2 linked regions of the Homo sapiens genome follow. The protein of the gene in region 1 purifies or fractionates together with the protein of each later gene. This does not show direct contact. Each region holds a gene or a part of one and is shown on either strand. Other genes may lie near its edges. The genes, in order: ZNF24 and CKM.

Region 1 (2,991 bases):
GAAGTGGTGATATGGCAGTGCCAAGCAGTGGCATCGCCAGAGTATCTGTTTGGTTAGCAAATGAGCAGTCATTTTAGGTCATGCAGATTGCTGATATCTGCCCAGTAGCCACTGAGCATTTGCTGGTTTTTTCTTCTGGCTTTCTTGGAGGTTAAGCTCTCTGTAGTCATACCCAGTTGGTACTTGATCTTTAGCAATATGTCTCATATTCATGTAAATTGAAGGGAGGGTTACATGTACTGAAATAATCTGCATGCTAGGCATTGGCTTAGACACCGTACCTATCTCACTTAGATTTGTGGACTAGGAAAGCAAGATTCAGAGATCATGTGACTTGCATGTGGCCTAGAGATAAAATTCAAATCTGGTTCTGTAGACTCCAGGGACATATTCACCATGCCATGGGTGGTGGCTATTAAACCTTGATAAATTTGTGTTTATGGTTAACAAATGTGAAAGCTATTAAACATTGCTGGTTTGAATTTTTTACAGTGCAGAAATGTAAAATGAAAAAGGATATTTCCTTTCACAGTGTTACCGAGAAGTCATGATAATTTCGTTTGTTCTTCCAGATTTAGGCATATACTTATTTAATCAATAATGTGTTAACAGCTGACACCTGTGGTTGCTGTGACAGGCACTATTTGAAGTGCTTTATCATGGATTAACTCTTAATCCTCAGCTACCGTATAAAGTAGGACATAACCCCATTTCACATGCACTACACTGAGACTTGCCTCCTCTCCCCCCACATTGAAGATGTTCTTTTTTCATAACTATATACTATTCCATTGCATGAATATTCTGTAATTTATTTAATCCCCTATGGATTGATAATTAGGTTCATTATAGATAGAAGTGTAATTAACATTCCTGTACATGTATTTTGCTACTTGTGTGGGTATTTCTGTAGGATGAATAACTAGAAATTTATTGGATCAGGTTTCACATTTGCAGTTTTGAAAACTACTACCAAAAAGATTTCACCAATTTACAACTCCATCATTAGTAAGAATGCCTGTTTGCCTATAGTCTGCCAACCCTGAATCCTTAAAAATTTTTGCCAATCTGGTAGGCAAAATTTCTTTCTTTTCTTTGAATATTAATGAGGAGGAACATCTTTTCATGTTTCTTGGCCATTTGCATTTCCTATTATGAATTGCTTTTGCCCATTTTCCTTTTTTTAATTATGAAAGTCTAATGACTACCTTCTCATTGTATAAAAAACACAGTTCTTTGAATAGAGAGACCCTTTTCTCCAATGCTACCAATCACATTCCACTTACCACAGTTTAACATACATCCTCTAGTCACCTTTCCGTACGAATATACATACACATAAAAACACTTTTTACATAAATAGGATCTCATATTCTGTAGCTTTTTAAAATTTTGGTCTCAAAAAAAGATAACAGGTCTTTAAATTTCTTTAATGGTTGAATATGATTAAATACTATGAAAATGCCATTATTTATTCCCTTAATTTTTTTCCTCTCGCTATTACATTGCCAAAGTAAACATCCTATTCAGATGTCTTTGTGCATGTGTGTGAATATTTCTTTAGTCTGGAGTCCAGTAAGGTGGATTTTTGGATCAAAGGGTTTGTTCTCTGTCCACCTTCAGTCTTCCCAAAGGCCTTCATAACTGTATTTTCACCAAGTGTATGGAGAATGTTCATTTCCCCATATAACCATACCTACACTTGATAGTTTTTATCTGTTGGGCGAAAAAGAACCTTTTCTTATTTTGCATTTCCCTGATTATAAAAAAAAATGGTGAGATTGGGGTTATTTTCATGTTTATTGGCCATTTATAGTTTACTGTGGATTGTTTGTATCCCTTACCTGCTTTCTATTGGGTTATGTGTGGATATATTGTTTTTATTTGTTCAGCATCTCCTTCCCCATCTTCTGGTAACACAACCTTTATTTATTTGTGGGGAACCTATTCCCTGTGGCTTAGGTGAGCATGTGACCAGGCCTGGCCTCCTGAGTCCCACAGCTTCCTAGCCACAGTGATAAAAGAATGGGTATATAACTTAAGCCAGGCTAAGGAAAGCCCTTAACAGAACTTCTGCTGGAACTACTGGAAAGAAGGCTTTATGGAGATCCCAGGAACCAAGGACCATGTAAGCCTGAATTTGTGCCATGTGGAGAGAGTCTGTCTGAGGAGAAACTCGGATGCTAGCAGAAATGGAAAGAGAACTAAGTTCTGATGTCATTTTTCTGGAGGCCCTAGATCCAGCTGTGCCTAAAGCCTGCCCTACCTCCGGACTTTAAAGTTTTGTGAGCCAATAAAGTCCCTTTCTTGTTTAAGATAATTGAATTGAGTTTCTGTTCTGATTAATATAGGTTATTTGTATTTTCTTATTGATTTGTAGAAAACCTTTGTAATTTTAAATTCTAGACTTTATGCACTATATAAGTTAATAAAATTAGCATGGCCTTCCATGATTTGGCCTGTGTCAACTTTTGCCATTTGTTACTCCATTCTCCCTATAACACACACCCCACACACATACACTTTACATTCCAATAGTAACAACATTGATGTTGGGAATGTGGATGAACAGCTTTTTACACAATTGCCTCTTTGGCAGTTCTCTTCTTATTCTTCCTCTAGACTCATTAACCTGGGACTTTAAGGGTTACACTGCTGAGAGCTGTACCCATCTCCTACCATTGTTCTTGGGGGATTCCCCTCAAGCATTCCCTGTATACAACCCTTGGAGCCCTTCCAATGACCTCCATCCCAACTCCATGGTTCTCTGGCTCTTTGTTTCATTCTCAGGCCTGTGGACTCAAGACGTGAATGAGCACACACAGACCTGAGCAGCCTCACCCTGTGGGCTCTTTTCTATGGCCAGAAATGTAGCAGCGCTCTATGTCACCTGGCACCTCTATTAATCACATCTCCTAAGATGGAGTTTTCAAAGAGATGTCTTTCAAAATTGAGGAAAACATTTTGCAAGCTTTTATTCAACACATTTAA
Region 2 (7,556 bases), on another chromosome or scaffold:
AGAGTTCAAGGGTCAGTACCTTGGCCATGTGGTTGTTATGTTTGCTGAGGTCGGGGTACTCCTCCTCAGGCTTGTAATTCAGCTTGAACTTGTTGTGGGTGTTACCGAATGGCATGGTGGCGGTGTAGGAGACCTGATGGGCAGGGCAGGAGGGGAAGATTGAAGATTAGCTGGCATCTTTTTTCTTCTTCTTCTTCTTTTTTTTTTTTTGAGACGGAGTCTCGCTCTGTCACCCAGGCTGGAGTGCAGTGGCACGATCTCGGCTCACTGCAAGCTCCACCTCCTGGGTTCACACCATTCTCCCGCCTCAGCCTCCCGAGTAGCTGGGAATACAGGCGCCCGCCACCACGCCGGCTCATTTTTTGTATTTTTAGTAGAGACGGGGTTTCACCATGTTAGCCAGGATAGTCTTGATCTCCTGACCTTGTGATCCGCCCGCCTCGGCCTCCCAAAGTGCTGGGATTACAGGCGTGAGCCACTGCACCCGGCCTTTTCTTCTTTTTTTTGAGATGGAGTCTCACTCTGTTACCCAGGTTGGAGTGCAGTGGCGAGACCTCGGCTCACTGCAGCCTCCACCTCCCAGGTTCAAGAGATTCTCCTGTCTCAGCCTCCTGAGTAGCTGGGATTACAGGCGCACACCACCATGCCTGGCTAATTTTTTTGTATTTTTATTAGAGATGGGGTTTCACCATCTCTACTGGTTGGCCAGGCTGGTCTCGAACTCCTGGCCTCAAGTGATCCACCCGCCTCGGCCTCCCAAAGTGCTGGGATTACAGGCGTGAGCCACTGTGCCCCGCCTAGCTCGCATCTTGCAGACAGCAGCAAGAGAACTGGGCAAGGCGTTGGGGTCAGGCAGGCTGTGTAACTTGGAGCAAGAGAAATCCTCTCTCTGAGCCCCTGTGTCTCAGCAGGAAGGCATCCGGAGTCTTAGATCAAGGGCCTGGCTCTGCCGTATCCCAGTTGGGTGAGCCTGGACTAGTCATTCTTGCTGGAAACTCAATTTCCCCAGGTGGAAAACGGGCCCCTCCCGGAGGCTGGAAAAATATTTTGTGTGGGTAAGAGTGTAGGTTCTGGAATCAGCCCAGGGTTTGATTCCCAGCTCTGCTACCTACAACCAGCTGTGTGGCCAGGGGCAAGTTGCTTAACCTCTGTGCCTCAATTTACTCATCTAGAAAATGAGGATCCTAACAGCACTTGCCGCATGGGAGTGTTGAAAAGATTAAATGTGTGAATACAGGTGTAGCTCTCGGAACAGTGCCTGGTACACAATAAGCATTATTTCACTTAGCTGCTATTATTATTATTATTATTATTATGTTTGAGACAGAGTCTCGCTCTGTCGCCCAGGCTAGAGTGCAGTGGCATAATCTCAGTTCACTGCAACCTCCACCTCCCAGGTTCAAGCAACTATCCTGCTTCAGCCTCCTGAGTAGCTGCAACTACAGGCGTGTGCCACACCTGGCTATTTTTTTTTTTGGTATTTTTAGTAGAGTTGGGGTTTCGCCATGTTGGCCAGGCTGGTCTTGAACTCCTGAACTCAAGTGATCCGCCCACCTCTGCCTCCCAAAGTGCTGAGATTACAGGCATGAGTCACGGCACCTGGCCTGTTGTTGTTATTTTAAAGGTTCGTGCGAGGAGCTGGTGAGAAGGTGGAGGTGAGGGTGCTGCTGGGAGTATGTGAGCAGGTTCTTGGATTATCAATCCAAAGACAAAGGGCTGGGTCGGGGGAGGGCTGGGTAGCTGCCCCCACCTCTGCCTGCTGACAGTTCTCCCACAGGGCTCAGAAGGGAAGAAAAGCTCAGCCTCTGGGTCGTCAGAGGCAGGTTCAAATCCCACCTATGCCATTTCCCTGCTGTGTGACCCCAGGCCAGTCACTAGGCCTCTCTGGACCTCTGTCTCCTGTGAACTGAGCCTGCCCCGTAGGATTGCCAGGATCCTCTGAGCTTGGCCATGAGGTTGGCTGAGCACAGGCCCTGGCATGGAGTTGGAGCCTGGAACCCTGGTGGCTGCTATTATTGTTATTTGTTATTACTACTTTTTTGCAGAGATGGGGTCTCACTATGTTGCCCAGGCTGGTCTGGGACTCCTGGCCTCAAGTGATCCTCCAGCATCGGCCTCCCAAGATGCTGGGATTATGCGTGTGAGCCACTGCGCCAGGTCCTACTGTTATTATTATTTTATTCACTGGACCCAGAAAGGAGAAGGGACCCAGAAAGGAGAAGGGGCCTCCAGCAGCGGTGGGAGACGGGGATGGGAAGCAGGTGGGATTGTGGGAGGGAGATTGGGACCACGGTGAGCTGAAGCCAGGGAAGAGGAACAGGGACCCGCCAAAGACCTTGGGTGCTGCTGTCCAGGGTGGTTATTTTTAGAATCTGGCAACTGCCTGCCATCCCACCCCCAGCTGCTGCCCCGCCCCACCCCCACATTCCGGGGCTCGGCTTGCACCAAGTCAGCAGGCCCAAGACAGGTGGGCCAGGGTGGCTGGGAGGACACGGGTCCAGGCCTCGGGGCTCAAGGACATCCTGGGATGGCAGCCCAGACCCCCTCCCTTCAGAGGATGCCCCCCTAATCCCTGCCAGGGACACCCCAGGAGAGGGCACTGAGGCAGGGTGGTGACCCCCCCCACAAGAGACATAAGCAGAAAGCCCCAGAGCCACACACCCCCACCACCGCAGACTCCCCAGATCACACTGTAAACTAAGTCACACAGTCACACTTCCAAACTCAAGGACATGCCCAGGACACTCATGTGTCCGCTACTAAGTCAGAAACAAGGTCACAGGGACCCACACAGTAGCAAACGCAAAGAAAGCCTGCGACACCTGCTCTTGCAGACTCTGCTAGGCGACAGACACACCTCCCACGGCTTGTGGCGCCAGTGTTGGCGACAAACTGTAATGAACACAGGCCTGGCTCAACAGCCCCTTGCAGGGGGTGACAGTTGGCAGCTGTCAGGACCCCTTTCATCTCGGATCCCTCCCCATAACCCAAGACTTGTGCCGCAGAAATCACAGGTCCCAGTGGGGGGTTCAGGCAGCCTCACAGATGGAGGGGCCTCCCAGACACACAAGGGTCAACCTTCCCACGCACCGACCTGCCTTTGTATAGGAGGATGTTGGTGGAGCAAGGGGTGACACACAGACCCTTTCCCAAGCCAAGCCTCTAGCACCCACAGAAATCCCCTACTCTGGCCCCCACCCAGATTCCCGCCCCGTGCAGTACCTGGCTGGGCTGGGCTGAAGGGGGGCTGTCTGTATCCTGGAGGTGACACTGACCCAAAGGAAGGGCCAGCAGCCGTGGCCTTATATAGGGGGACCTAGGCTGTGCTATTGGCTGGGAGGGGTTGTCCCCAGGGAGGAGTTCTGGAGGGCAGCTGAGCCTCTCACCTCCCTGCTCCCGCACCATACCCACCCTGAACCCAGGCATGCTTTGCGCCCAGCCCCATGGCCTTGTATGGGCTGAGCCGCCCCAGGGGCTGGGCTCACGCCCCCCCACCAAGCTGATACCCTGACCAAGTGCTGAGTTGGGCTGGCGGTGGGGACAGCTGGCCCCCCGCCGGGAACATGGGACGGTGGCTGGGAACGTCCCAAGCACGTAGAAGCCACCGTCCCCTGGCCCCTGAGTCTCCTTCAGCCACCAGCCCTTCCTGTGGCCCTCGGCTCCCCCTGTGCCCCCTGGGCCCTCACCCCTACCCGAGTCCCAGCGGCACCTCGGGGAACCAAGGTGTGGCTCCAGGAGGAGCAGATACCCTGTGAGCTGGAGGAAGCAGAGGCCGGGAGAAGGACCAATTGCAATGGAGGGCAGTCTAACCCCAGAAACCCGCGCTTGGGCGCCCCTTCCTCCTAGGGACTGAGTGGAGGGGAAACTGAGGCTGGCTGAGTTGGAGAGATTCAAACTCAGGGCAAGGGTGGGAGGCGGTGGTCACCCTCCCCCCCACTTAACCCTCGCCCCCTCGGTGCCACTGGGAGATTTCCGCTGTGCGGGGGACAGGGAGGGTCTCGGTCGCCGGGAAAGGAGTTATTTTTAGAGGGCGCTTTGCTGTCTCCTCTGCCGCAAAGGCCGAGACCCGAGGCGCTGGGTATGGGGGGGTTCGGGGGCAGGTGTTGGAGGGGGGTTCGCCACGTGTCCTGGTTAATTATAACCGGGCGTCTCGGGTGTCCTCGGGCCTCGCCTCCTTACAAGGGCAGCCACGGGGCCCTGGGTGGCCGCTCCCACCTCCCGGGGAAGGGGGCTGGGCAGCGACGCCGTTCAGAGCGCGGGCGCCAGACTCGCGCAGATCTGGGCAGAGCAAGCGCTCTCGGCGCCTCGGCTGTGAGCAAGGACTTCCAGGGCTGAGAGGGGGGTTCTGTGGAGGAGAGTACAGTATAGAGGAAGCCGCTTTCTCCTCCTGGGACGCGCCAGGATTGCAGGCTGATCGGGTCTCCTCCTCCAGGGAGCTCCCAGGATTGCGACGAAGAAAAGAATGTCCCTTCCCTCTGAGTTCCTCCCTATCCCAGGGTCTCCTGGGTCTCCTTCACATCTTCTTAGGCAGGTGAGGACTGGCTTAGAGAAAGGGAGCCTCTGTGCCTCTCCCTCAGACTCCTGATCTGAGGGGGGAGGGGAGAGGGGTGCTTTAGAAATATTTACATGGGGCCCAGCCCTTTCCCAGCAAGCTCAGATTGCCGAGGGTCTCCTTCACGGTTACGGAAACTGAGGCCCAGAAAACCAAATGGAACTGGTCTCGAAACAGGGATCTATCAGGCACTTCCTGAGGCTACAACAAAACACAAAACCCCCGCCGTCCTGGAGGTGATAGTGCAAGAGGGTCACAGATGAGGGGACGGCACAGCAGCAGGGGAGGTCGAGGCAGGCCTCTTTGGGAAGATGACATCTGAGCAGAGACCTGAAGGAGAACAGGGAGCCAGCCATGTGCGGCTCTGGGGGGAACAGCAGGTGCAAAGGCGCTGAGGTGAGAATGGCTGGGCACATCTGAGGACAGACAGGAAGGAGGCCAGGGGACTGGAGCAGATGGGGCCAAGGAGAGAGTGGGAGGAAGAAGATGAGGTTGGAGGGGAGACAGGAGCAGACCCATGGTGCCCTAGGGGCTGTGGGAGGAGTTTTAATCCCATTGTGATTGACAGTGAAAATGTTAGATGGGCCGGGCACAGTGGCTCAGGCCCGTAATCCCAGCACTTTGGGAGGCAGAGGCGGAGGCGGGTGGATCACTTGAGGCCAGGAGTTCAAGACCAGCCTGGCCAACATGGTGAAACCCCATCTCTACTAAAAGTACAAAAATTAGCCTGGCATGGTGACACACGCCTGTAATCCCAGCTAGCCAGGAGGCTGAGGCATAAGAATTGCTTGAACCTAGGAGGTGGAGGTTGCAGTGAGCTGAGATGGCACCATTGCCCTCCAGCCTGAGTGACAGAGCAAGACTCAGTCTCACAAAAAAAAAAAAAAAGAAAAGAAAAGAAAAAGAAAATGTTAAATGAACCAGGTATAGAAAGACAAACATCACAAGTTATTTGTGGGATCTAAAAATCAAAACAAGGAGGCTGAGGCAGGAGGATTGCTTGAACCCAGGCAGTCGAGGCTGCAGTGAGCTGTGATCGAGCCACTGCTGCACTCCATCCTGGGCAAGAGAGTGAGACCCTGTCTCACACACACAAAAATTAATTAAAATAACTAAAGGAGTATAATTGGATTGTTTGTAATATAAAGGATAAATGCTTGAGAAGATGGATACCCCATTCTCCACGATGTGATTATTACAAGTTGCATGCCTGTATCAAAACATTTCATGGCCGGGTGCAGTGGCTCACGCCTGTAATCCCAGCACTTTGGGAGGCCGAGGTGGGCAGATCACCTGAGGTCGGGAGTTCAAGACCAGCCTGATCAACGTGGAGAAACCCTGTCTCTACTAAAAATACAAAATTAGCCGGGGTGGTGGCACATGCCTGTAATCCCAGCTACTCGGTAGGCTGAGGCAGGAGAATCGCTTGAACTCGGGAGGCAGAGGTTTCTGCGGGCCGAAATCGCGCCATTGCACTCTAGCCTGGGCAAAAAGAGTGAAACTCCATCTCAAAAAAAAAAAAAAAAAAAAGAACAAAACGTTTCATATACCCCATAAATATACACACCTACTAAATACCTACAAAAAATTTTTTAGAATAATTTTTTAAAATATTAAATGGAAAAAATCATCATCATCATCCCACTGTGAGACTGACAGGAGGCACTGAGGGTCATAAGCAGGGAAGAGGCTGGATCCATGCCACACGCATTTTGGGTGGCACGGTCCAGCCACACCTTGTGGGAGGGTTTGTTTTTTTTTTTTTTTTTTTGAGATGGAGTCTTGCTCTATCACCAGGCAGGAGTGCAATGGTGCGATGTCAGCTCACTGCAACCTCCGCCTCCCAGGTTCAAGCGATTCTCCTGCCTCAGCCTCCCGAGTAGCTGGGACTACAGGCATGGGCCACCACGCTCTGCTAACTTTTATATTTTTAGTAGAGAAGGGGTTTTGCCATGTTGGCCAGGCTAGTCTCAGACTCCTACCTCAGGTGATCCACCCACCTCGGCCTCCCAGAGTGCTGGGATTACAGGCGTGAGGCACCCTGCCGGGCCCATTGCACATTCTTTTTAGCCACACAGTGCCAGAAGCCTTTTCTATGTTCGGGGATTCCCCACTGTAAGCCCTCCTCCTTTGGAGAAGCCAAAGATGCCAGAAACTCAATTTCCCAGAATCCCTTGCAGCAATGGTCCAGGCCAGTGACCTGGGCTGAGCCAATCAAACGCTCCAGCAGGACCTTGTGCCGTGAGCTCCCTCTGCTTTGAGTCTTAAAGAAACAGTTGGCCTTGGGGAGCTTTACAACCCTCATCACGTATCTTCATCCCACCCCCCAGAGCCCGACTGTCAATCCGACCTCTGCCCCTCCACTGCCCACTCTAGCTCAAGACCGCCTCCACTGTCCCTCCTGACCCAACTTCCTCCCTGGACTCCTGTCCCAGTCTTTGCCATTCCCACCTAAACCCTACCTGCTGACCTCCCCTCCTCAGAGCTTGCCATGGCTCCCCAGTGCCCTCAAGGTAAATGAGTATTTGTTGACTAAATAAATAATAGTAACTGTATCTGGCAGATGTAGGCGAGAGTAACCACTACCCAGCTTAAATAGAAAGGACTCTGCTATTGGCTGGGCGCAGTGGCTCACGCCTGTAATCCCAGCACTTTGAGAGGCCGAGGCGGGCGGATCACGAGGTTAGGAGATCGAGACTATCCTGGCTAACACGGTGAAACCCTGTCTCTACTACAAAAATATACAAAAAAAAAAAAATTAGCCGTGCGTGGTGGCAGGCGCATGTCGTCCCAGCTACTCCGGGGCCTGAGGCAGGAGAATGGTGTGAACCCGGGAGGCGGAGTTGCAGTGAGCCGAGATCGCACCACTGCACTTCAGCCTGGGCGACAGAGCGAGACTCCATCTCAAAAAAAAAAAAAAAAAAAAGGACTGTACTATCATGTATTAGGCACTGACAAAATCGTTGGAAGGGCTGAAGGAACACTGCTCGGGCCCCAGAACTAC

What was found.
Region 2: the proteins of ZNF24 (region 1) and CKM purify together in Homo sapiens (affinity purification with mass spectrometry; 2 studies listed by BioGRID and IntAct, with this or other methods). This does not show direct contact.

Annotation. Positions count from the first base shown.
Region 1 is NC_000018.10:35,331,689-35,334,679, reverse strand, and holds the end of ZNF24 (zinc finger protein 24), read left to right. Parts: 3' UTR 1-2,453; downstream 2,454-2,991. UniProt on the Homo sapiens protein: Transcription factor required for myelination of differentiated oligodendrocytes. Required for the conversion of oligodendrocytes from the premyelinating to the myelinating state.
Region 2 is NC_000019.10:45,319,599-45,327,154, forward strand, and holds the start of CKM (creatine kinase M-type), read right to left. Parts: upstream 3,278-7,556; 5' UTR 3,223-3,277; intron 134-3,222; 5' UTR 116-133; coding exon 1-115. UniProt on the Homo sapiens protein: Reversibly catalyzes the transfer of phosphate between ATP and various phosphogens (e.g. creatine phosphate).